Homo sapiens: one gene and its partners. The protein of the gene in region 1 interacts with the protein of each later gene in a pairwise test. Each region holds a gene or a part of one and is shown in the gene's direction. Other genes may lie near its edges.

Evidence for each region. The genes of interacting proteins can lie anywhere in the genome.
Region 2: the proteins of SYT17 (region 1) and LZTS1 interact in binary tests that used the Homo sapiens proteins (3 or more experiments, as listed by UniProt).
Region 3: the proteins of SYT17 (region 1) and SSX2IP interact in binary tests that used the Homo sapiens proteins (3 or more experiments, as listed by UniProt).

Annotation. Positions count from the first base shown.
Region 1 is NC_000016.10:19,261,590-19,269,501, forward strand, and holds the end of SYT17 (synaptotagmin-17), read left to right. Parts: intron 1-5,290; coding exon 5,291-5,487; 3' UTR 5,488-6,743; downstream 6,744-7,912. UniProt on the Homo sapiens protein: Plays a role in dendrite formation by melanocytes.
Region 2 is NC_000008.11:20,250,982-20,259,300, reverse strand, and holds part of LZTS1 (leucine zipper putative tumor suppressor 1), read left to right. Parts: intron 1-3,985; 5' UTR 3,986-4,119; coding exon 4,120-4,464; intron 4,465-5,715; coding exon 5,716-6,519; intron 6,520-8,319. UniProt on the Homo sapiens protein: Involved in the regulation of cell growth. May stabilize the active CDC2-cyclin B1 complex and thereby contribute to the regulation of the cell cycle and the prevention of uncontrolled cell proliferation. May act as a tumor suppressor.
Region 3 is NC_000001.11:84,658,480-84,666,798, reverse strand, and holds part of SSX2IP (afadin- and alpha-actinin-binding protein), read left to right. Parts: intron 1-566; coding exon 567-677; intron 678-2,246; coding exon 2,247-2,382; intron 2,383-4,268; coding exon 4,269-4,344; intron 4,345-4,423; coding exon 4,424-4,601; intron 4,602-8,319. UniProt on the Homo sapiens protein: Belongs to an adhesion system, which plays a role in the organization of homotypic, interneuronal and heterotypic cell-cell adherens junctions (AJs).

The DNA of each region.
Region 1 (7,912 bases):
TAAGAAGTTCAAACTGTACATACTTATTGATACAGAAAGTGGACATTTTCCTCTGTTTCCCCCTTCCCAGAGAGAGCCACTCTGAACAGTGGTGAACATCCATATTGTTTTCTTCAGGTATATTAACATTCTTTTTAACAAAAAGATTGTGCTTACATATACTGTTTTGTAATGTGCTTTTGTCTCCTAGCAATATGTGTTGGAGATTTTTCCATTTCATATAGATAAGTCTGTCTCATTTTTAATGGCAACATGGATTTCCGTGGTATTATTATCTCAGAAGTTATTTAATTCATTTCCTCCAGTCTTATTCTAGGTACCTCCCAAAGACAAACTTAGTGACATGAGCTCAAGTAGGCTACTAGGAGGTGACCTCAGGAAGCTTGAATAAGGGAATGGCAAATAAGACAGGAAAAGGAGGAAAACAAATCAAGGATGTTTGGCGAGTGGATATCTGCAGTATAGGGGGTCTTCAAAATCACCCTCAGGTCCAATGATTCACCACAGAACTTGGAAAAACTGTTATTCTCATGGTTACAGTTTATTACAGAAAAAGCATACAGACCAAAATCAGCAAAGTGAAAGATTGCTGCTATGGTCTGAATGTTTTGTTCCCCCAAAATTCTTATGTTGAATCCTAATCCCCATGTGGGAGGTGATTAGACCATGAAGGCTCTGTCCTCATGAATGGGGTTGGTGCCCTTATAACAGAAACCCAAGAGAACTGTCTTGCTGCTTCTATTGCATGAGAAGGCACCACCTATGAAGGAGAGCAAGCCCTCACCAGACACTGAATCTGCTGGTACCTTGATCTGGGACTTCCTAGCTTCTGGAACCATTAGGAAATAAATTCCTGTTGTTTATAAGCCTCCCTGTTTATGGTAATTTGTTATAGCAGCCCAGCAGACTAAGAAAGGGGAAAGAGTCCTCTTTGTCATAGGAAAAAGTCCAAGAGAGACCAGATGCAAGCTTCCAGTTGTTCTCCTCAACTGGAGTTATACGAGCAGTGCCTAATTCTCCTTGCAAGGATGTGTGACAACACACTTAGGGTATTGCCACCCAAGAAGACTCACCTGAGCCTTGGTGTCCAGCATAGTTAGAGGACGTTGGTCATATAGTCATGGCTGACCATCTGGGTAGCTGAGCCTCCTTGCAGAGGTAGCTTGCAGAGGTCCAGCTAATGTTGAGTGGCCCAAGGTCCTCACCATAAATCACAGTTAGCACAGACAAGCTGGCATGGCTCAGGCAGGAAGCTGCAGGTGCTTGAGGAAGGACACTATCTATAGAAACCATGAGTAGCCTCCAAGGTGGGCTGAGGGGTAGGCAGGGCACCAACAGCCCCAGCTACACTCCCTCAGGGACAGTCTTGCCATTTCCCGTTTTTCATTCTTATAAACAATGCCCTGGTGCAGGGGTCAGCAAACTTTTCTATAAGGAGTCAGATAATCTTTTTTTTTTTTTTGTATTCCCTTTTGGCAATTTGTTTAATTGAGATAAAATTCACATAACTTAAAACTCACCCTTTTGGTGTATACGATTCAGTGCTTTTTAGTATATTTTCAAGATTGTGCAACCAACACCACTATCTAATTCCAGAACATTTTTATCACCCCAAAAAGGAGCCCTGTGCCAATTAGCTATCACACCCCATTCCCTCTTTCCTCTATCCTTGATAACCACTAATGGTAATTTCTGTCTCTAAAGATCTGCCTATTCTGGACATTTCATATAAATGGATCATAATATATGACCTTAAAAACTTGGTACATAGGCCAGCCATGGTGACTTATGCCTGTAATCCCAGCATTTTGGAAGGCCGAGGTGGGCAGATCACCTGAGGTCAGGAGTTCAAGACCAGCCTGCCCAATGTGGCAAAACCCTGTCTCTACTAAAAATACAAAAATTAGCCAGGCATGGTGGTGGGCACCTGTACCCAGCTACTTGGGAGTCTGAGGCAGGAGAATCACTTGAGCCCGGGAGGCAGAGGTTGCAGTGAGCCGAGATCACGCCACTGCATCCCAGCCTGGGTGACAACAGTGAAATTACAACTCAAAAAAAAAAAAAAAAAAGAAAAGAAAAAAAAAACTTGGACATAAATGTTTACAGTAGCATTATCCATAATAATAGTCAAAATGTGGAAACAACCCAAATGTCCATCATCTGATGAACAGATAAGCAAAACATGGCATATCCATACAATGGAACGTTAGCTGGCCATAAAAAGTAGCACTACAACATGGATGAACCAGACAGATAGCAGATATGTGAGGCTTTGAGAGCCACATGGCCTCCAAATTATTCAGCTGCTGTGGTCTGAATAGTTGTCCCCCACCCTGCCAAATTTGTATGTTGAATTCCTAACCCACAAAGTGATGGCATTAGGAGGCGGGACCTTTGGGAGATGATTAGGTCATGAAGGTTGGAGCCCTCATAATTGGGATTAGTGCCCTTATAGAAGATGCCCCAGAGAACTAGCCTGTCCCTTCCACCATGTGGGGACTCAGTGAGAAGATACCACCTATGAGGAAGCAGCTTCTCACCAGACACCGAATTTGCCAGTGGCTTGATCTTGAACTTCCCAGCCTCCAGAACTGTGAGCAATAAGTTTTTGTTGTTTATAAGCCACCCAGTTTATGGCATTTTGTTACAGCGGCCTGAATGGACTAAGACATCAACTCTGCCCTTTTTGCACAAAAGCAGCATTATGTAAACAAATGGGTTTGACTGTGTTCCAATAAAACTTTATTTACAAAAACAGGTAGTAGTCCATATTTGACTGGGAGGCTCTAGTTTGCCCATTCCTGCTATATAAAATATCCTTGTATGTGTATTTTTGTCCATTTGTGCAGAAAATTCTATGGGATCAATTCCTAGAAGTGAAATTGCTGAGTCATGAGTTATGACATATTTATTTTGAACAGATGCTGTGAACCACCCCAAAATTTGAACCAACTTGCTTTTCCACCAGCGGCACATGAGAGTACGTGAGACTGAGATTTCCCCCACCTTTTTTTTTTTTTGAGACAAGCAAGGTCACTTTGCTACCCAGGCTAGAGCCAGTGCAGTGGCACCATCACTGCAGCCTTGACTTCCCTGGACTCAGGTGATCCTCCCACCTCAGCCTCCTGAGTAGCTGGGACTACAGGCACACACCACTATGTCTGGCTGATTTTTTGTATTTTTTAGTAAAGGCAGGGTTTTTCCATGTTGCCCAGACTAGTCTCAGACTCCTGGGCTCAAGCGATCCACCTGCCTCAGCCTCCCAAAGTGCTGGGATTACAGATGCGAGCCACCGTGCCCAGTCAGAATTTCCTTTCTTAAAGCCCTTTCACAAAGAAGTAGAACCCATACCCATTTAGAAGGGAAGTTTCTGCATTGTCATTCTTGAGCTTTGGAGAGGAAGAAGAAGATAGAACATTTTGCCCCCAAAGAAGAAAACTAAATGGGGCCTGAAGTGGTCTCATAATAGTATCTTATTTTAGATTTGAGGCTCACAGGGAAGGGGACTCTGGTAACTTGTCCTCATTTGGTGAGATCAAACCTTACACTGCCCACTAAGTGTCATTCCTAAAAGCCTTGAGTGTTACCTGTTCAATTATTTTTTCAAATGCAGAGAGCTCCTTAGCAATTTCATTTATTAAGCAAAGCTTCCATTCCTATTATTTCTCTTTGTAAGTAATTTGCATGTAAATGAGGTCCACCTATGCATACTGAGCATGTTACCAAATGTACAAAAAATATACATGGTCCAATTTTTCTCCACAGAGCTGACAGGTACCCATCCCTCTTGCTGAAGATGACATAGTATTTCACGTAGCCTAGTTTTCCCTAAGTCTTTTTGGCTTTTGGACGATGGATGGAGTTTTTGTTTTTATTTTTCCATTTTTCTTTTTTCTCCCTCATTTTCATCATTTGGAATTCGTGGTGTGAAACCCACAGGGGAGAACAGAGGCTCATTAGCATTCAAGCTCTGTTTTTGGCAGCATATTTTAGTTGCTTTATATGATATTCAGCATCCCTCCTGGGATCTAGCCTGCCTTTGCTCGGCTCACGCTGGGTGAATCTGTGATATTTCCCATTCTGTAGCCCTTCATTTATAACACAGGCATAGCCTGCTTTCCCATTAGTGAGATGGCATGCCTGGACTACCCACACACAGATCAAGAATTAGGCGGAACTTGGCCGGGAAGATAAATCAAGTTAACCGTCTCATTAGGCTTGAAAGACACAAATTAAGCTGAAGTTGGGATTAACAGAGAAGCCTTTCAAAGAGACATGCAGCACAACAAGGGGTGGAAGAAGTTGCCGTAGCCATTACTCTCAGAAAATTTCCAGCATTTGATGGAACAGAGGAAACATGAAGTCTCTTTTATAAAAGGTCAACAGACAGAAATTTAGGCTCAAAATAGCAGTATAACATTTGTTGAGCTCTTACCACCTGCTTGGCACTGTGTGCTGAGAGCTTTACACACATTATTTCATAGAAATTGCACATTGACCTATGAGAGAAGCACTACTAAAATTCCTGTTTAACTAATAAAGAAACTGAGGCTCAGAGAGGTTACTTCGCCTGCCTCAGAGACACAGAGCTTGGTCAAATGATAGAGCCAGGATTCACTCCCAGGATATTTGGTCCCATGGCCCATGGCTTAACCTAGTGGTTCCCGTTTGGGATGCATTGGCCTCCGCAGGGGCCATTTGGCCATGTCCGAAGACATTTGGGGTTGTCACAGCTGTAGAGAGAGCTGCTACCAGCTTCTAGTACGTAGGTACCCGGGATGCTGCTAAACTTCCTACAGTCCACAGGACAGTTACGGCAAAGGATTATCCCGCCCATAATGTCAACAGTTCCATGATTGAGAAACCCTGGTTTAATCGCTCAACTGGACTACATTGACAGGCTCACTGTTCCACTAGAACTATCCACTTACAGAGCTCTATATGCAGTGTGGTGATGCCGTGGGACATACGTTTAAGGCTGCATATTGCAGGCGGTGCAGCTGTCTGGCAGAAGGAACAGCCAATGCCAAGGCTGAGAGGTAAGAATCTGGCTGGCATGGGATGGCAGGAAACCAGGTGCAGCTGTTGCAGAGACTCACAGGAGGATGAGATGAGGGAGTTGGACTTCTCACCAAGAAAAGGAAAAAGACAGCGTGCCCTAAACGATGACCCCCATGTTTGCAGTTGACAAATGTGTAGACTAATGGCCTCTTGTCTTCTCCCTGCCTTCCTGTTCTGTTCCCCTCCTTCCTCTTGCCTCCCTCCTGCCCTCAACCCTCTGGCTCCCTAGTTTTCGGCCACAACATGAAGAGCAGCAATGACTTCATCGGGAGGATCGTCATTGGCCAGTACTCTTCAGGCCCCTCTGAGACCAACCACTGGAGGCGCATGCTCAACACGCACCGCACAGCCGTGGAGCAGTGGCATAGCCTGAGGTCCCGAGCTGAGTGTGACCGCGTGTCTCCTGCCTCCCTGGAGGTGACCTGAGGGCTGCAGGGAAGGCAGCTTTCATTTGTTTAAAAAAAAAAAAAAAAGACGGAAAAAAATGTGTCACATACTATTACATCCACACCTGCATACACACTCGCAACATGTCTACACACGTCCACACACACAGACACACAGATACCCCAAATCCTCTCAGAACTGAGAGGAAGCTGACTATTGATCACAAAATGGCCGCCCTCAGTTGAGTGAGGCCTAGGAACTTTCCGGAAGCCCCATCCATAGATCACAAGCTCAGTGGGCTCTGCCGTGGGACTTATTGGCAGTGCCTGCTCTTGTCAATACTCCTGCCCCAAAATGCACTTTCAACCCTCAGGCCAGAGAAAGGACCTCCCAAAGGGTGCCAAGCTCCATCAAGACTAAATTTACCAAGAGTTTGGCCAGTGTGTGGGAGACTTGAACACCCCCCACTTCCGAAACACACACCTACTGGGTAACTTCTGAACAGGCTGCTGTTCCCTGGGGTTCTTCAAACCTGATACCTTTCTCCAAAGGTGTAAGTATCTTTGTCTTCTCCGTAGTAAATGTGATAACTAGATTATGGGCCATTTGGAGAAACCAAATGGCAACCAAAACTATTCCAGTGTCAGAAGCCTTTCCTGGCTTAACAGAATTGTTCTTGTGTTAGCTCATCCCAGGGAACGCCCTGTGGGTATGTATGTGTATGTCCTCGTGCATGTGCCCTCACAGGCGAACACGTGTGTGCCTATGTGTCCTCTTGGAGAGCATGGCGATGGGCCAGGACCTCAGCCCTGAGCACTGCCTTCTCTCTGCCTCTCCTGTCCAGTGAGAGTCCAACCAGTGTCCTCCTGTCTGTCAGAGATCCCACTTTGGATAAAAGTAGTGTGTGTGTGTGTGTGTGTGTGTGTGTGTGTGTGTAAAGTAAATAGGATATGATAGAGCAAAAGTAACATTTTTTGACCGAATCATGGTGATTGTGACCCACGAAAGACATACAAAGACTTGATATATGGATTAAAATGGCTATCACACCCCATCCATGATGATCTTCTTCCTTAATCATACTCTGAGGATCTTTCTGTGTTTTTCTGTGAACGAATGTCACGTCTCTCGTGCTAAGGAATTAGTGTAGTTAGAATAGATCTCTCTCTCTCTCTCTTTCTCTCTCTCTCTTTCCTCTCTCTCTGTTGGATGCTTCTGTATCTTTTTCCACAGCATAATGTCTGGTGTGATGGGGAGCTATTTATTGAAATTAAAGATTATTTATTTGTGCCATGCATTCGAGTTATCTTTTTCTTCATGAACACAGGACATAGAAGGTGGGAGGGCATTGCAGCTAGTACTGCTGTGTAACAAACCATACTGAACAAGTCAAAACAATGATTTTTTTTTTTTTGAGACAAAGTCTCACTCTGTTGTCCAGGCTGGAGGGTAGTGGTGCAGTCTCTGCTCACTGCAACCTCTGCCTCCTGCATTCAAGCAATTCTCCTGCCTCAGCCTCCCGAGTGGCTGGGATTACAGGTGTGCACCACCACCCCTGGCTAATTTTTGTATTTTTAGTAGAGACAGAGTTTCACCATGTTGGCCAGGCTGGAATTGAACTCCTGGCCTCAAGTGATCCACCTGCCTCAGCCTCAGCCTCCCAAAGTGCTGGAATTACAGGCATGAGCCACTGCACCCAGCTTCAAAACAATGATATTTATTATACTGATAGATTTTGGGGGTCAAGAATGTTGAGTATTTGCAATATGTCTGTCTGACTTGAGCAGTGTACTAATGCCAATTATTCCAGTGTTGCTCTTCTATATAAAACTTTTCACTTCCTCAGGGCAAGATTCACGGCTTATTTAGCATTTTGTTGGCCAAGCCCTGCTAAGGGCATGACCCAGGTAACTGCTCCATGGGCTAAAATGGCTTCACCCCTCAGGCTACATTGGGTATTGCAGAGAGAACCTCATGGTGTCTCCCATTCTGGAGTGGAAGTGTTGTGGAGGTCAAGGGGGAGAAACAGGGAGGCTGGGTTAGGTTGATGTATTCATCCATTTTGCATTGCTGTAAAGGAGTACCTGAAACTGGGTAACTTATAAAGAGGTTTATTTGGCTCATGGTTCTGCAGGCTATACAGGAAGCACAGTGCTGGCATCTGTGTGGCTTCTGTTGAGGCCTCAGGAAGCTTACAATCATGGTAGAGGGCAAAGGGTGAACAGGCGTGTCACATGGCAAGAGAGGAAGTGAGAGAGGAAGAGAAGGAGGTGCCAGGCTCATTTAAACAACCAGCTCTAATAGAGTGAGAACTCACTCATCACCAAGCCGTTCATGAGGGATCCACCCCCATTACCCAAATACCTTCCACCAGGCCCCACCTCCAACATTGGAGATCACATTTCAACATGAGATCTGGAGGGGGAAACAACATCCAAACCATATCAGTTAAGTTCTCAGAAAA
Region 2 (8,319 bases), on another chromosome or scaffold:
GCCAGGCCTTGTATTTTCCTTCTGTTTGTTTCGGCTCCCTAATGTTCCTATTTAATATTAATATTTTCAGTTTGTAAATGAAGAAACCTCAGAGAGATTGATTTTCAAATCAAACTCCTGCCGATGCCACAGCTGATGGTCTGGTCTGTACAGCCCTGCAGGTACAGCTGCTCGGCAATGTGTATTGCATGGCAAAAAAAGGAGGAGCTGAGCATATTGCGCAGAGCACGGGAGGGTCTTTTGGCCCAAAATGACACCCCTGCATGTGGACCAGAGTAGTATTTTCGCCCCATAGGAACTAGAGGTGTTAGCTAAGCTAGGGATGGATGACCTAGGGGGATGAAAACACATTTTGTCAGTGTCAAGTTTATATCAGCAGAGCCACCCTGTGCTCCTAAGTCACACCTCGCAGGAATGGGAGGCAGAAAGGTTGCATTTAGAAGGAAAGGATTAGCTCTGGAAAGTGAGTTTGGACATTGAGGCTCCCCAGATCCATAGGGATGATGGATGTTGGCAAGGACAATGGTCACAATATAAGTAACAGATACCGATAACACTGCCTAGCATTTATTGAGTGCCCACTATGTACTAAGTATTGAGTAAATGTTCCAGAGCTGTTATCTTATGGTGGTATTTCTTAAATTTCTCATAACGATCCTATGAGGTAGGCTGCTTCACTGTATTTCCTCGAGTATACAAAGCCATCAATTCAATAAAAGCTTTTCACATCAAAACATATTAAACTTACACAACGAAGTTTTGTTGTGTCATGCTTTTCCTAACAAAATATAGAACATATTCATAACATAACCTCTTTATTCTTCAGGATGATAACGCAAGTTTGAATCGAAGCCTAGATATTCAGAGTCACAGAGTCTCCATGCACAACTGCTAATTGTAAAAAATATATATATAATAAAATTAAAATTAAAAAACAGAGTCAGAAAGTTTCTGGCTCCCTTTCAGCTGTGCCCATGCAGTTCTCCATGTCCCACCTGGGATTTCTTTAGCCCCTTTAGGATGGATGGTATAATTTAGAGCTCAGCGAAGAACAGAGGCTCCTTCCACATCTCCTGTTTTATTAAACTTGTGGCTTTCCCCTTCTTAATTGGATATCTGTCTTTTGACTAAGAAATACTTCACAGTGCATGACAATCACCAACCTTTCCTAGCTTTGAAAATTGTGTGATCTAAACTTAGAGATTTGCCTGAATCTGCACATGTGCTGGCACTGACATCCCAATTTCTCCTGTCTGGTGACTGACAAGGTTGTTATTGTTTAAGCATTGATTATTAGATGCTATCCTATTACTTTAAAAAAAAAATGTGCCCAGTCCGGTGGCTCACGCCTATAATCCCGGCACTTTGGGAGGCCTAGGCAGGTGGATCACCTGAGGTCAGGAGTTCGAGACCAGCCTGGCCAACATGGGAAAACCCCATCTCTACTAAAAATACAAAGATTAGCCAGCCAGTCATGGTGGTGCTCACCTGTAATCCCAGCTATGTGGGAGACTGAGGTGGGAGAATCATTTGAACCCGCGAGGTGGAGGTTGCAGTGAGCCAAGATCATGCCACTGCACTCCAGCCTGGGCAACAGAGTGAGACTCTATCTCAAAAAAAAAAAAAAAAAAAGTTTAAGGGTGTCTTAGAATTAGTTTGTAACACTGAAGGTTAAAGATATTAAACAGTTTACCTTCCATGTCATAGCTGGCAGGTGATGTAACTAGAATGCACACCAAGTCGGCTGGGTACTTCTCAACATTAAGGCTGTAATGACTTTCTCCTTCTTTCTCTCTTGAATCTTCTCAATGAGGCCTTCCTTCCACCATTCCTCCAAAACTGCTCTTGTCAAGGTTACCAAAGATCTCCACATGGCCAAATGCATTGACTAATTCTCAATTGTTATCTTACTTTCAGCAGCACTTGACAACTTTTTTTTTTGAGACAGGAACTCAGTCTGTTGCCCAGGCTGGAGTGCAGTGGCGTGATCTCAGCTCACTGCAACCTCCGCCTCCTGGGTTCAAGCTATTCTCATGCCTCAGCTTCCTCAGTAGCTGGGACTACAGGTGCGTGCCACCATGCCCAATTTGCCTGGCTAATTTTTTATATTTTTAGTAGAGACGGGGTTCCACCATGTTAGCCAGGCTGGTTTCAAACCCTTGACCTCAAGTGATCTGCCCACCTTGGCCTCCCAAAGTGCTGGGATTACAGGCTTGAGCCATTGCGCCTGGCCATTTGACACCATTTTTAGGAAACAATTTCTTGACTTGGCTTTCTTAGGTCTTCTATATCGACATCACCCTGAAAACCTTCTCTGCTGCTCTTTTTCACTTCTCCTAACCTGCCTGACCTCCAGATGCCGAGTGCTCCATGTTAACCATCCTCAGGCCTCTCTTGTCTTTCTGCATCCGCTCTTTGGTGACCCCATCTAGTCTCATAGCCACTTCCACACTCCCAGCTCTGACAAGTGCATCTGCAGCTCCCAGCAGCTGCCCACTCACCCTCCTGCCTACTCTCCATCACTCCCTGGATGCCAAATAGGCTTTGCAAACTGAATGTCTTCAACCAAACTCCTCTCTTTGGCATTGTCCCTGACTCCTCTCTTTCGCTCACTCCCTACATCTGATCCTTTAGCAAGTCCTGTCAGCTCAACCTCAAAATTACATTGAAAACTGTTTTTTAGAGACAGGGTCTCACTGTGTTGCCCAGGCTGGTCTTGAACTCCTGGCCTCAAGTGATCCTCCTGCCTTGGCCTCCCAAAATGCTGGGATTACAGACGTGAGCCACCACCACATCTAAATCCACAACTACCACCCTAGACTATTAGCCTGTAATTGGCCACCACTTCTATCCCCCGTCTCCTCAATAAGCTTCTTCCCCACCCGGAAGCCAGAGTGACCTTCCCCAACCTAAGGCAGATCAAGGTGTCAGCTGCTTAAAGCCATCCAGGGGCTCCTTGTCTCAACCCAAGCAAAGCCAGAGCTCTTTGAGCTGCACAGCCTCCTTGTTCTCTGATGTCTGCTGGCTCCTGGTTTCTGTTTCTCCTTCCCAGCCTTGCTAATTGTTCTCCAGCCAGGCTGCTTCCCATGTGGGTCTCACACAGCCAAGCCCCCTCTGCCTCAGGGACTCAGGCTTTTATACTTGGGGTTTCTTCTGGTACCCCTCTCCCCCTAGATTTTCATATGACTTGCACCTCATTTTCTTTTCTTCTTCTTCTTTTTTTTTTTTTTTTTTTTTTTTGAGTCAGGCCCAGGCTGGAGTGCAGTGGCACAATTGTGGCTCACTGCAGCCTTGATCCCCGGGGCTCAGACGATTCTCCCACCTCACCCTCCCAAGTAGCTGGGATTACAGGTGTGCACCACTACGCCCGGCTAATTTTTGTATTTTTAGTAGAAATGGGGTTTCTCTAAGTTGCACAGGCTGGTCTCGAACTCCTGGACTCAAGCAATCTGCCCACCTCAGCCTCCCAGAGTGCTGGGATTACAGGTGTGAACCATCATGCCTGGCTGCCCCCTCATTTTCTTGAAGCCTTTTAAAATGCTACCCTAACAAAAGAAGACCTTCCTGCATAAAACAGCCACCTCCCAGAATTCTGTTCTGTCCTCTCTGCTCCAGTTTCCCCCGCAGCACTGGTACCCGCAGCACTGGTACCCGCAGCACTGGTACCACTTGCTATAGTATACATTGGTTTGCTTCTGGCCTCTCCACACCACTGTAACCCTAAGTTCCAGGAATGCAGGGACTGTGACTGTTTTAGTCACTTGCTGGGTCCCGAGTGTTTAGAGTAGAGGCTTGCATGAAGTGGGCTCCCAGTGAATGTTTGTTGAATTATCAGACAAAGGAAGAAGGAACGGAGCACCCGGTGGTGGAGACAGTGCTGGGCTCTGACATGTGTTTCTCTACTGCCCAGATCTGGAAGTCGGAATCAGCACTGTGCTGTGACCACTCCCACCCACGCTGACTTCTGTCTTGTGTCTTCTTCCAGGTCTACGGCTCTCGCAGGCTCTGTGAGGGCTTTGCTATGACCTCAGTCCCCTCACGGAGCCACGACTGCCCCTTGCTGCCACAGCCTTTCCAAGACCCTGCCCGGCCCTGCCCCATCCTCAGCCCCGAGTCACCATGGGCAGCGTCAGTAGCCTCATCTCCGGCCACAGCTTCCACAGCAAGCACTGCCGGGCTTCGCAGTACAAGCTGCGCAAGTCCTCCCACCTCAAGAAGCTCAACCGGTATTCCGACGGGCTGCTGAGGTTTGGCTTCTCCCAGGACTCCGGTCACGGCAAGTCCAGCTCCAAAATGGGCAAGAGCGAAGACTTCTTCTACATCAAGGTCAGCCAGAAAGCCCGGGGCTCCCATCACCCAGATTACACGGCACTGTCCAGCGGGGATTTAGGGGGCCAGGCTGGGGTGGACTTTGACCCGTCCACACCCCCCAAGCTCATGCCCTTCTCCAATCAGCTAGAAATGGTAAGCGGGGGTCGCTGGCAAGGGTAAGTGGGTTGGAAACGCAGGAGAAAGCAAAATGGGGGTGGAGAGCCTGGGGGTTCAGGGGGAGTGGTGACCTGAGCATTCAGACTCCTCAAAACCAGAGCGGCAGGGGTGCCGGCGGAAGCCTGTGGCCACACCGCAGAGATCAAACGTTTCACAAAGGAATTAGAGCATCGCTCAGTCCCCCTGAAGCAGAAGTCTTGGGTCAGGCCATAAGCAAAGAGCACAGGGGATATGTGAGCTTTCTGGAGTCCCACTGAAATGTAGCTGGATTGTCAACGTAGGATCCAGGCGTTTGCCAAGCCTCGGGAAGGAGAGGGAGCCCTGTTCTCATCTGGAAGCACAGATGAAGAGGATGCAGGCCGGGAGTTAACCGCTTCTCTCCCCGGGAGACTCGTGGGGGTGGGTGCGGTCTTCTCATTTGCTGCCCTGGTGTGCATTAGCTCCTTGTTCAAGCTGCGCCTGGGGGCATCTTTGAATACAGGCTGGAGTTTTGTCATCCATTTACCAGAGATTAGGGCAAAGGAGGCCCAGGCACTGAGAAATCCAGCCCTCACACCAGCTCAAGCCCTCGTGCGTCCCACGAGTGGACACTGAAATCAATTTTCCTATTCAGTCCTCTGCCCCTTGCCCTGGGGAAATGAATCCCCGGCTTTGATTTACTAGGAAAGAGCCTCTTATGTTTGCATAGAGCATTCAGCTTTTCAAATTAAGGGGCTTGTAAACTGTGAAGCACTCTACCAGGGAAAATTACAGTTTTAAAAAAGGATCGTGATTTGGAGTGAGCCTCCCAACCCTGTAAGGAGGCCAGGTCCGTGTCCTTGCTCCAGGCTTAATGGAAGAGGCAGTGAACAGGAAGAAGGGATGGACCTAAAGAGGGACAGCAAGCTCGGCCAGCCTGATGCCCTAACTTGCCCCACACAGAGACCTAGAGCAGGAGCCTCAAGATGGTATTTATCACCTCGGGAGGGCTGGGGCAAGCTGGTGGCAGGTTGCTATTTCATAGAACAAAGTGCCCAAGTCGCCATTAGGGTTTTTCCTTCCTAAGAGAGATGACATTCAGCTGCTTCAAAGCAACAGGCAAGGTCTGCTGAGACAATTGACCAAGAGGGGTGCTGCGTGCGCTCAGAGAGCCCAGACTGGCTCAAGGTCGGCACGCGTGCCTGGGGAGGGAGGGTGCAATGCGCGCGCAGGGGAGGCATGAGTCACCGCGGTCCTTTTCCTCTACAGGGCTCCGAGAAGGGTGCAGTGAGGCCCACAGCCTTCAAGCCTGTGCTGCCACGGTCAGGAGCCATCCTGCACTCCTCCCCGGAGAGTGCCAGCCACCAGCTGCACCCCGCCCCTCCAGACAAGCCCAAGGAGCAGGAGCTGAAGCCTGGCCTGTGCTCTGGGGCGCTGTCAGACTCCGGCCGGAACTCCATGTCCAGCCTGCCCACACACAGCACCAGCAGCAGCTACCAGCTGGACCCGCTGGTCACACCCGTGGGACCCACAAGCCGTTTTGGGGGCTCCGCCCACAACATCACCCAGGGCATCGTCCTCCAGGACAGCAACATGATGAGCCTGAAGGCTCTGTCCTTCTCCGACGGAGGTAGCAAGCTGGGCCACTCGAACAAGGCAGACAAGGGCCCCTCGTGTGTCCGCTCCCCCATCTCCACGGACGAGTGCAGCATCCAGGAGCTGGAGCAGAAGCTGTTGGAGAGGGAGGGCGCCCTCCAGAAGCTGCAGCGCAGCTTTGAGGAGAAGGAGCTTGCCTCCAGCCTGGCCTACGAGGAGCGGCCGCGGCGCTGCAGGGACGAGCTGGAGGGCCCGGAGCCCAAAGGCGGCAACAAGCTCAAGCAGGCCTCGCAGAAGAGCCAGCGCGCGCAGCAGGTCCTGCACCTGCAGGTACTGCAGCTTCAGCAGGAGAAGCGGCAGCTCCGGCAGGAGCTCGAGAGCCTCATGAAGGAGCAGGACCTGCTGGAGACCAAGCTCAGGTCCTACGAGAGGGAGAAGACCAGCTTCGGCCCCGCGCTGGAGGAGACCCAGTGGGAGGTGAGGCCACACAGGGCTCATGGGTTTGGGTGGTCAGCGGTTTGGCGCCAGTACCCCCCTCTCCTTCTGGTGCCGGCCAATAGCGTGCAAACACAGACCGCGCAGGCAAGCGGGGCTAATGTGCTGGCTTTATCACCCAAAGAAGGGGCTCCCTGCAAACCATGTTGGGGGATCGACTTACATCTGAGCTTCCTCCTGTCCCCACCATCACCCTCATGGCTCCTAGATTTCAGTTTCCCAAGTGAGCCATTAAATCATGAAGCCGGAAGCCAGATGACCAAGGCCCAGCCAGGCTGTGGGCTGACCTCCCTTCCATCAGCTCCCAGGAGGCTCAGAAGAAGAACAAGCCGTGCCTGAGTTCAGGCGGGGCCAGGGGCCCAAGAGAGCACAGAATGCATTTGTTGCTTTGGAGGGAGGGACTGCACCCACTAGTAAGAGGGACCCTATTGGTGGCAGGTTTCAGTGATGGAAGTGGCCACTCCTTGCTGAAGTGTAAGTGGAACTTCTATTTGGTGAGCTGAGATGGAAACCTAGGAGAGGAAGTAAAGAGTCCCCCACTCACACACTTACACACTCACACACACTCACTCACCCGGTCACACGTGGAAATGAGGCATCTGTACCTGACCGTGCTGGAGAACCCCATAACCTCTGCATCTATTAGTGGGAAAGCAGCTTTTCTCACCAGCCTGGTGGTCTGGATGACTCATGGAGTTCAAGCCCATCGTTGAGGCTCTTTACATGCTCGCACCCAGCTTGGTCTGTCCACGTGCCTGCCTCACCCCCAGTTCAGAGTCCAACTCTCAGTCTACACGCAAACCCCTGGCTATGTGCAAGTCAACAACCAGTGGTTTAACTTGCCCACTGCTGGCAGCTGTATCACCCCCATTTAACACCAATGGTATTGGTTTTGGTGTCAGCCTGATTTCCGTCATCGACGTTTATGCCCACATCCTCTGACCTCACCCCTGCATGCACCCAGCCCTCCTCTCTCCTGTCTACTGGAGTAAAGACTACCTCACAAATTCACTGCTGTACCCAGTGACTAGTATCATGCTGGCTTGGATGCAGAGCCCAATCCACATCTGTCAAACGAGGAATCATTGTCTTCTCCTCTTGCTCTTCTTCTCTATTTCCACCCCTATCCCCCATCAAAATTTGGCCAAGAGCAATGATGAAAACCGAAGCCACAGGTTAGACCCATGTGTCTCTGGATCTTGGCCATCTGGGGTCATGGGAGACCAAGGCCAGTCTGGCTGAATCTTAAGAGTGAATGAAGTCCAGAGCATGTGGCTCTACAGAATGGATTCTTGGAACTAGCCTGGAAGCCACCTTCACATTTCCTTTCACAGTAGAAATTTCCCCTTGCCCTCAGTGAAACACTGCACAGTCCTGGAGAAAATCCGACCCTACCCAGGATGCGTGCTTGGGACCAAGAATTTCATTCCAAGGCCAACCCTGTATTCATGCCACGAAGGGAGTGACACAGTCATGGCTGAGGCATGGGCCTGGCTTTGAACCTCAGCTTGACCACTTATGATCCAGGTGATTGTAAATACATTAGCCATGGTGGCAATGGGGTATAGTGATTAAACTGTTGGGATCAAATCTCTACTCTTATACTTTATATTTTATATATATATATATATATATATATATATATATATATATATATATATATATTAGCCCTCAGGCTGGTCACTTCACCAGCTATTTGCTATCATAACCTCTCTGTGCCTCAGTTTCATTGATGTAAATTGAGGACTACTAATAGTACCTACTTCATCGGGTTGTAAGGAA
Region 3 (8,319 bases), on another chromosome or scaffold:
GGCTTTGCTGCCATTCCGCTCTGGGAAGTACCTTCAGAGACTTTACCACTTGCAGGGAGAAGTGGTGTCACACAGAAGTCCCATTTCTGTGACTTGATGTGTTGCCACTTTGCTTGGTCACCCATCTTTTTCTTCAGACTTAGCTCCAAATCACTTTTGCTTCTTTTTCAAAGCCAAGTATACTCTCGAAGGATGATGACATTGCTGTACTTGAGGAGATCTTCAAAAGTGTGGTATAGAAGTGTTAAAAAGTATTAAAAATAAACTTTAAAAATATTCAGGGGCAGCATCATGGAGTGATGCTCTTTCCAGGGATCCATTTTGAAGCACTTTTGTATATGTGTACAAAATTTGATATGTAGATTAAAATTTGATGTGTAAGTTTAAATGTTATTTTATAGTGTGCTTTGTAATAATTCCTTTAAATAAACATTTCATGTGCCACTAACATTTGATTTTGACTAATAAACACTAGGATGTATAACTTCTTGTTACTGATATTTTAAGGATTCAGTTATTCTAAATCCTTTATTAATTTTAAGCAAAATTGCTTATAAATGTTTTAGGAACAACTGGAAACCTCCAGGAGGGAAATGATTGGGCTTCAGGAAAGAGACAGACAGTTACAATGTAAGAACAGGAATTTGCATCAGCTACTAAAGAATGAGAAAGATGAGGTGAGTTGTCAGTTATTGCAGATGAAGTTTAAGTGAATTTTTGTTTTCTTTGTAATATGAGATGACCATAAGAGCCACTTTACTTGAAAAAAGAAAGAACCATTTATTCATCTTTCCCCAAATTGATATGGTGGACCTTTGTGTAATAGTATTTAACTGGAAGCTCAGGAACCCTCTCCACTACAGACCCCGCCCCCAGTGGATCCATTTGGCTTAGATATTAGTTCATAGCTGGTAACAGCCAGTGTCCTGGACTGCCCTTCCTGGACTCATGTTCACTGTCACTTTTTCTTAGGCACAAGAGTGCTTTAAATGCAGATCTTTTATTCTCTGCTGTACCTGTACGTGATAGCTGAGGTGCCCCTTCTTGCATGCACTGTCTTAAATATTGACATTGTTCGTCTAGTCAACCAGTTTCTTCATTAAATGGGCACAGAAGCAGTTCACATTAAAAATCTAATTTCTGACACAAAAGATACAATTCTGATTTCTGCTTTAGTGGTTACTTAGCAGAATTCTAATTTCTACTTTAGTGGTTACTTGGACCTATAGCACTAATGCATTTCAAAATATATTTTTTAATTTGTGTAGAAAGAAACTATTATGTTTTTATTGCTCTAAAGTATGACCCCTGACCATGTAATAACTATAAAAATATAATACTTAGTTTCAGTGTTTTATATGTTGTTTTAACTACAATTAAAGACTTCTGAGGAGTGTATTTCTTTAAAGCGCCCTGGAGTGGTTTAGATAGATTTGTTTTACCATATTTGTTTATTTAGTAGTATATTTAGTAAGTAGTAGGTAATTAGTATTTAAACTGTAAGGTTGCTTGTACGTGTTTCCTTGAGTTCACAGACAATTTTGACTAGATCTGTTGATTATATTTAAACGGTTTGAATACAGCTCATCTTCGGTAGGGATTAAGTTAATCATGTTGATCCCTAGCAGGGACTGGGAATGGCTTTATAAAAGAATAGGACATACTCTGTCAGGAGTTGCCTGAGAAACTATAATAGATCTAAATTTTGAACAGCAGTGTCTGGCACCTAGTAGATACTCAGCAAATATTTGGACTGGATTATTCTGCTGTTTGGACTTACTCTTACTCGAGAATTGTTTTTAATTAGAAAAACGAGCCTGCTTACCTGCTGCCATGTGTCACAGGCTTAATTCACTTTGTCACAGATTAATAAAAAGTATAAGTGATTGTAAGTCAGTAATACAAGGAGTTCACTAAAAATGATCAGATGAATTCTGTTTATCTCAGATGAAGTTTTAATCGTTTTAATACTTCCATAAGAATATCTGGTTTTTAAATGATCAGAGTCTATATGTAAGGTAAAAGGTATAGGAGATAATTTAGAAAATTAGCGCTTCTGGAAATTTCAGAATTAAAAAAACTTTATGTGATTCATATAATATTTAAAAAAGTGGTTTCTACTGGTTACAAATAAGGAAGAATCATCCTAGGATTTTAAAACCTATATGGGGAGATGAATTTTAGGATTTTTCTCTTTCAAATTTGTGAATCGTTACTGGGCTTATAATAGCAAATGCCTTTTTCAGGTGCAAAAATTACAAAATATCATTGCAAGTCGAGCTACTCAGTATAATCATGATATGAAGAGAAAAGAGCGTGAATATAATAAACTGAAGGAACGTCTACATCAACTTGTTATGAACAAGAAAGATAAGAAAATAGGTAAACAGCTGGCAAAGATCAGCTAAGAGAATAAATAAGCTAATACTATGCTTAGAAATAATTGTAAAAGGATTGAACACAGTAACTCACGAAATGTTATTTTCATGCTTTATACAATTGATTTTCAGTGGTGTTTGTTTATATAAAAAATGTAGACAACTGGTTAGTGGAAAGTAAGTCATTCTGCCTTGCTTTATTTAATTGCATGTATTTTTTAACATGACCAGTGTAGAATTAATCCATAGAGGAAAACTAAGCCAGAGGACATTCTAATTTTCCATAGCAAAGAACTGATAATATTAAAAATCAGTGTCAGTTTCTGAGTATCAAAAGAAGTATTTTAGAGTAAACCTCATAAAATTTTTCATCAGACCAAATCGTTCATGTCAGTTTGAGTTCCTTTAAATAAGTTTAGCTGTACATTTTTGGAGCAGCTAGTCAAAAGGATGGACTATAAAAGTTAGGCGTGTGTGTGTCTAAGGTATACTTTTTTCCTAATAGTAGTCTTTTTCAAAACTTTAAGCCATTTCATCCAAATATGTGGATAATTTCAAGTAGATAGTGTAAATTAAAAAGCAAAGAAACACGAAAGTAGAGCTTTACAATACAGTTTTGCTGGCCTGGTATAAATACGAGGCACAAGAAGTGTGTGTATTTATTTATTGAAGAGTGGTTTCCTAGTGACTATAGGTAGTCCTCTAACATACATTATACCGTGACACCCCTAAACTGTCTTACCTTAGATTTGAAAAACAGGCGATGAGCGTACGTTTCAGGCTGTCATGTGGTAGACTCTGCCTGCTGTCAGCAAGCAGTTTAGTGTTGACTACATCACTGTCATTCTGCAGCAGAGCTGTTGGAGGTATCTGAATACTTTATTTTTTAAATTGTTGAAAAATAGAAATGAAGATTCAGTAATGCGCCGTTAAGATTGGAAATCTTTAGGTATCCTGAGTTAATCTTACTCATTTGGAGAATCATTGGTTTTTAAGTTTAGTTAGCCTCATATTCATTCATGAAGGAAAAAAATTAAAAAGCAGGATGAAATGCTGAAAGTATAAAGTGTAACACAGAGAAGTTTATTAAGGATTTAGTTCTGGAAACAGAGCTCTTCCATTATAGCGGTCTGGCTGTTTCCTGGTCCAATCGGAAGTGACAGTTTCATAATGATTTTATTAACTCTAAGATTATAATAATTTACTCTTTTTCCTTTTTACGCCAAATGTTTCCATGTCCACCTGCAGCAGAAGATATTACTACTATCAGGGGCTTTGACTCCTTTGATGAAAATGATGATGTTAATGTTAACAGGACATGGCAAACTTTTTCTGTATAGATCCATATAGTAAACATTTTCAGCTTTATGGGATCTACAACTTATTTGTTGCACCTACTTATCTCTGCCATTGTAACAAGAAAAGTAGCCATAGGCAGTATATAAACAAGTAGATGTGGCTGTGTTCCCATAAAGCTTTATTTACAAAATCAGGCAGCCAGCCTGTGGGCCATTATCAGGCAACCCTGATAATGAAATTAATAATGATAAGGTAACATTTATTAAGTACTTACTGTGCGCCAGATACTGTGTTCACTCTACTGTGTTGGGTGCTTTAATAGTTATTTCTTTGTCTTCTCAACAACTCTTTGGTAGATACTTTTGTTATTCCCAGTGTCCAAGAAGAAACAGGCTAAGCAGTTAAATAATGTGCCGAGATCTCATTGCTTACAAGTGGTGGAACTAGAAACTCGAAAATTAGGCTGTTTAAGCCCAAATCCTAACCTATATACCAGGTTCACTTTCACCACTTACGTGTATAGAATGCATTAGAGTTTTAGATGCTTAAGCATGTATGGTAAGAATTAATTTTATGTGTTCATGTTTGTAGCTATGGACATTTTGAATTATGTCGGGAGAGCTGATGGAAAAAGAGGCTCCTGGAGGACTGGTAAAACTGAAGCCAGGTAAAGTCCAGTTTAAATTGATAAATGTAATCAGACTTCCTTCTATCCTGCATTTTCATACTGACAGTTTCTTTCTCAGGAATGAAGATGAAATGTATAAAATTCTCTTGAATGATTATGAATATCGTCAGAAACAAATCCTAATGGAAAATGCAGAACTTAAGAAGGTTCTTCAACAAATGAAAAAGGAAATGATTTCTCTTCTTTCTCCCCAAAAGAAGAAACCTAGAGAAAGAGTAGATGATAGTACAGGAACTGTAAGTGGCTCTTTCCTCTCTAATACAGTCTTCAGATTGCTAATAAGAATAATTAAAATATGTGGTAGGCATTCTCAATGGGGACACTATTGGTATTTTGAATAGGACACTCAACTGCTATGCTACTTTCAATTACTGTGACAACTGAAAAGACTGTTCCTATGTGTTTTCAGACATTTCCTGAAAAATGCTGGAGATGATTTTCCGGGGAATTAATACATGTCAAGCACTGTTAAGAAGTGCTTTATAAGCATTGTCTCATTTTATAATATTCCTCATAACATATGAGATTATTTCATATATTATAATTTGATGATTTAGATACTATAAATATCCCCATTTTATAGATAAGGAAACTAAGGCATAATATTTAGTAGCCCAGTATCACACATGACAGTGCTAGGATTTGAATCCAAGTTTCTCACTCCAGAGCTCACAATCATAACCACTATGTCAAATATCCTTTCAGTTGTTTTAGTATTATGTACTCTACTTTTCACAGAGTGAAACTTCTGTTAACTTTGGGAAACAAATATAAATTTATTGGGTGTTCTTTATGTTCTAGTCTCTGGAAAGGAAAGGCTAAAAAGATTTTGACTTTTTCCCTCAAGAAGCTCTTTTTGGGAAAGACAGACGTGGAGAAGTGATTATTACATGTGTTAGGTGCTGTAATAAGGTGGTACAATGTGCAGAACAGAATAGTTATGGCAATCAAGGCATCACAGAGAAAGTGACATTTTCACTGCTTCTTAGAAAATAAGTATTTTTGAGGTTAAAAAAAAAAACATGGAGAAAGCATTCCAGAGAATGGGAGTAATATATGCAGAGATCTGAAAAAAAAATCACATAATGGTGAAAAGTTCATTTTACTTAATTGCTTTACGTATAAGTTAAAATCGTAGGTTTCAGCAAGTTCACATTAGTGATAAAAATCTGAAAATAATGTTGATGGAAAATGCTAGTTAACAGCAAGATACCAGAACTTGTTTTTTAAACCTGTATTTGAGGATTATTTATTTTGTGGTATCACAAATCAGTCCAGCTGATAAGCCCATCCCAGCACTTACCTTTTTTTCTCCTTAACATTTAAAAAAAAAAATTACCTAAATTTTTTTTTTTTTTTTTTTTTTAAGAGACGGAGTCTTGCTCTGTTGCCAGGCTGGAGCGCAGTGGCACAATCTCGACTCGCTGCAACCTCTGCCTCCCGAGTTCAAGTGATTCCTCTGCCTCAACCTCCTGAGTAGCTGGGACTATAGGCAGCCGCCACCATGCCCGGCTAATTTTTTTTTTTTTTTTTTTTTTGTATTTTAGTAGAGACGGGGTTTTACCATGTTAGCCAGGATGGTCTCAATCTCCTGACCTCGTGATCCGCCTGCCTCAGCCTCCCAAAGTGCTAGGATTACAGGCGTCAGCCACTGCGTCTGGCCTTTTTGAGAGAGAGTTTTGCTCTTGTTGCCCAGGCTGGAGTCCAGTGGCACCATCTCACCTCACTGCAATCTCTGCCTCTCGGGTTCAAGCAATTCTCCTGCCTCAGCCTCCAGAGTAGCTGGGATTACAGGCATGCACCACCACCCACGGCCAATTTTGTATTTTTAGTAGAGACGGGGTTTCTCCATGTTGGTCAGGCTGGTCTCAAATTCCCGAATATCTTTTACATTCTCCATTTTGAGGCCTGCTTGACCTCTTATATGTAGTTAACCTCTTATCTCAAACTCTGTCACTTCTAGTCAGTTCTTAGCATTCACTAATACTTCTTCAAGGTTAGCATAGTGTCCATTACTACTGCAGCATCTTCAGTTTTTGGTCCAACCTTAACGTCTCATCATCAGATTTCAGTTAGCAAAAGTATGTGGTAAGTCAGGGAGATCTTTCTTCAGTGATTAAACCCTCCTCACCCCCATTACTCAGCCAGTGGGTAGTATCCTGTATAATTCTTCATAATTCACATGTTTAAGTGGATGAACAATGACCTCTTAAATATATATTCTAGTTTTAAAAGATCCATTTTTCTAGCTCCCTTTTCTCTTTAATTTTTGTAGGGAAAGATTTTTGAAGCATTATAGCAAGAGAAATAAGATGTAATGTTGGAATGCCTAGGTAGCATCCACATTTCATTTATTATTTGACCTACTTACTTGTAAAACATATACCGAAAATTCAGGTAAAATGAGTTTGTTGTTTTGTTTTTTGGTTTTTTAGAGGCAGGGTCTTGTTGCCCAGGCTGGTCTCGAACTCCTGGGCTTAAACAGTCATCCCACCTTGGCCTCACAAAGTGTTGGGATTACAGACATGAGCCACTGTGCCCAGCCGAATTTTTTATTTTCATTTTGTGGTTAGAGAGTTCTGTTCAATCTGAGAAATGTGCAATAATTATTCATTTTTCTTTCTTTTTTTTTTTTTTGAGATGGAGTCTCACTCTGTCGCCAGGCTAGAGTGCTGTGGTGACATCTCAGCTCACTGCAACCTCTGCCTCCCGGGTTCAAGTGATTCTCCTGCCTCAGCCTCCTGAGTAGCTGGAAGTACAGGCATGCACCACCACGCCCAACTAATTTTTGTATTTTTAGTAGAGACAGGGTTTCACCATGTTGGACAGGATGGTTTCGATCTCTTGACCTCATGATCCACCCACCTCTGCCTCCCAAAGTGCTGGGATTACATACAGGCATGAGCCACCGCGCCCGGCCAATAATTTTTCTAACAGATTGGTAGTATTCTAATAGGCTTTAAAATGTTCAGAAGAGAAGCTGTGCTTCCTTGGAAGAGTTACTGGCAAGTAGCTTTTGAGTATTGGCAGGGGCTAGAATCACCATGAGCCGGATCCTGGGCCATTCCCCTGTCTGCTCCGCCTCAGAGACCCTGACCTCTGCTAGCCCATTGCTGACCTCAACTACTGATAGAGTTCTTCAGACTCAGTTGCTCCCTCATCCTGCTGATCTCCATGTGCGAGCAGTCGAATCAGCCCTTCTTTCTTTTCATCTTTTATCTTTCTTTTTTCCCCAGCAAGATTTTTATTGTTCAAATTAGTGAAGTATATCTCTCTGCCTTCCTGAATATTAATGACAAATTAGAACTACTTTATGTAGATGTGGGTTATTATGACATATATCCCTTTTAGTATTGTTTCCCCATGTTCTTTATCCTGCTTTGATTCTGTGTGATCATATATCAGTAAAGTTTGCTACTTCTTTATGATTTCATGTTTGGCAGAATACAAAGAAAAGTATCTCCCGTTATATAAAAAAGTATATGAGGAAAATAGAATTAACAGTTGCTTTTATTAAATACTTCAGAGATTATTTCACAAGTGCATTTCTTTAAGCAGCCTAGGATTAGAAACAAGTTGATCTAATGTCAAATATCAGTTCTGCCTCTTAGTTGTAATGCTGCTTCTCTAAACCTCGGTTTTCCCACATTGTAATGAGCTGAGGGTTAAATAACGTGAAAACATCCAACACATTAGACAGGTAGTGATATCTCCTTCTCAGACAGCTTCATGACTCTTGTCATTAACTGTATTTGGATTCAAATTCAGGTTTAGAGAGAGCTGAATTTAGGAGTCTCATTTTTTTTCTCAAGACATTTAAATACTGGGCCATATATGCATAAGACACAGCACAGAAATGATTTTGATGTGGCTTCCTCTGGTAATCAAACTGAAGACTACTTGCCTGAGCATCTAAAGCCATTGTAAGGTACTAGCCTTTCCTCTTCATCTCTC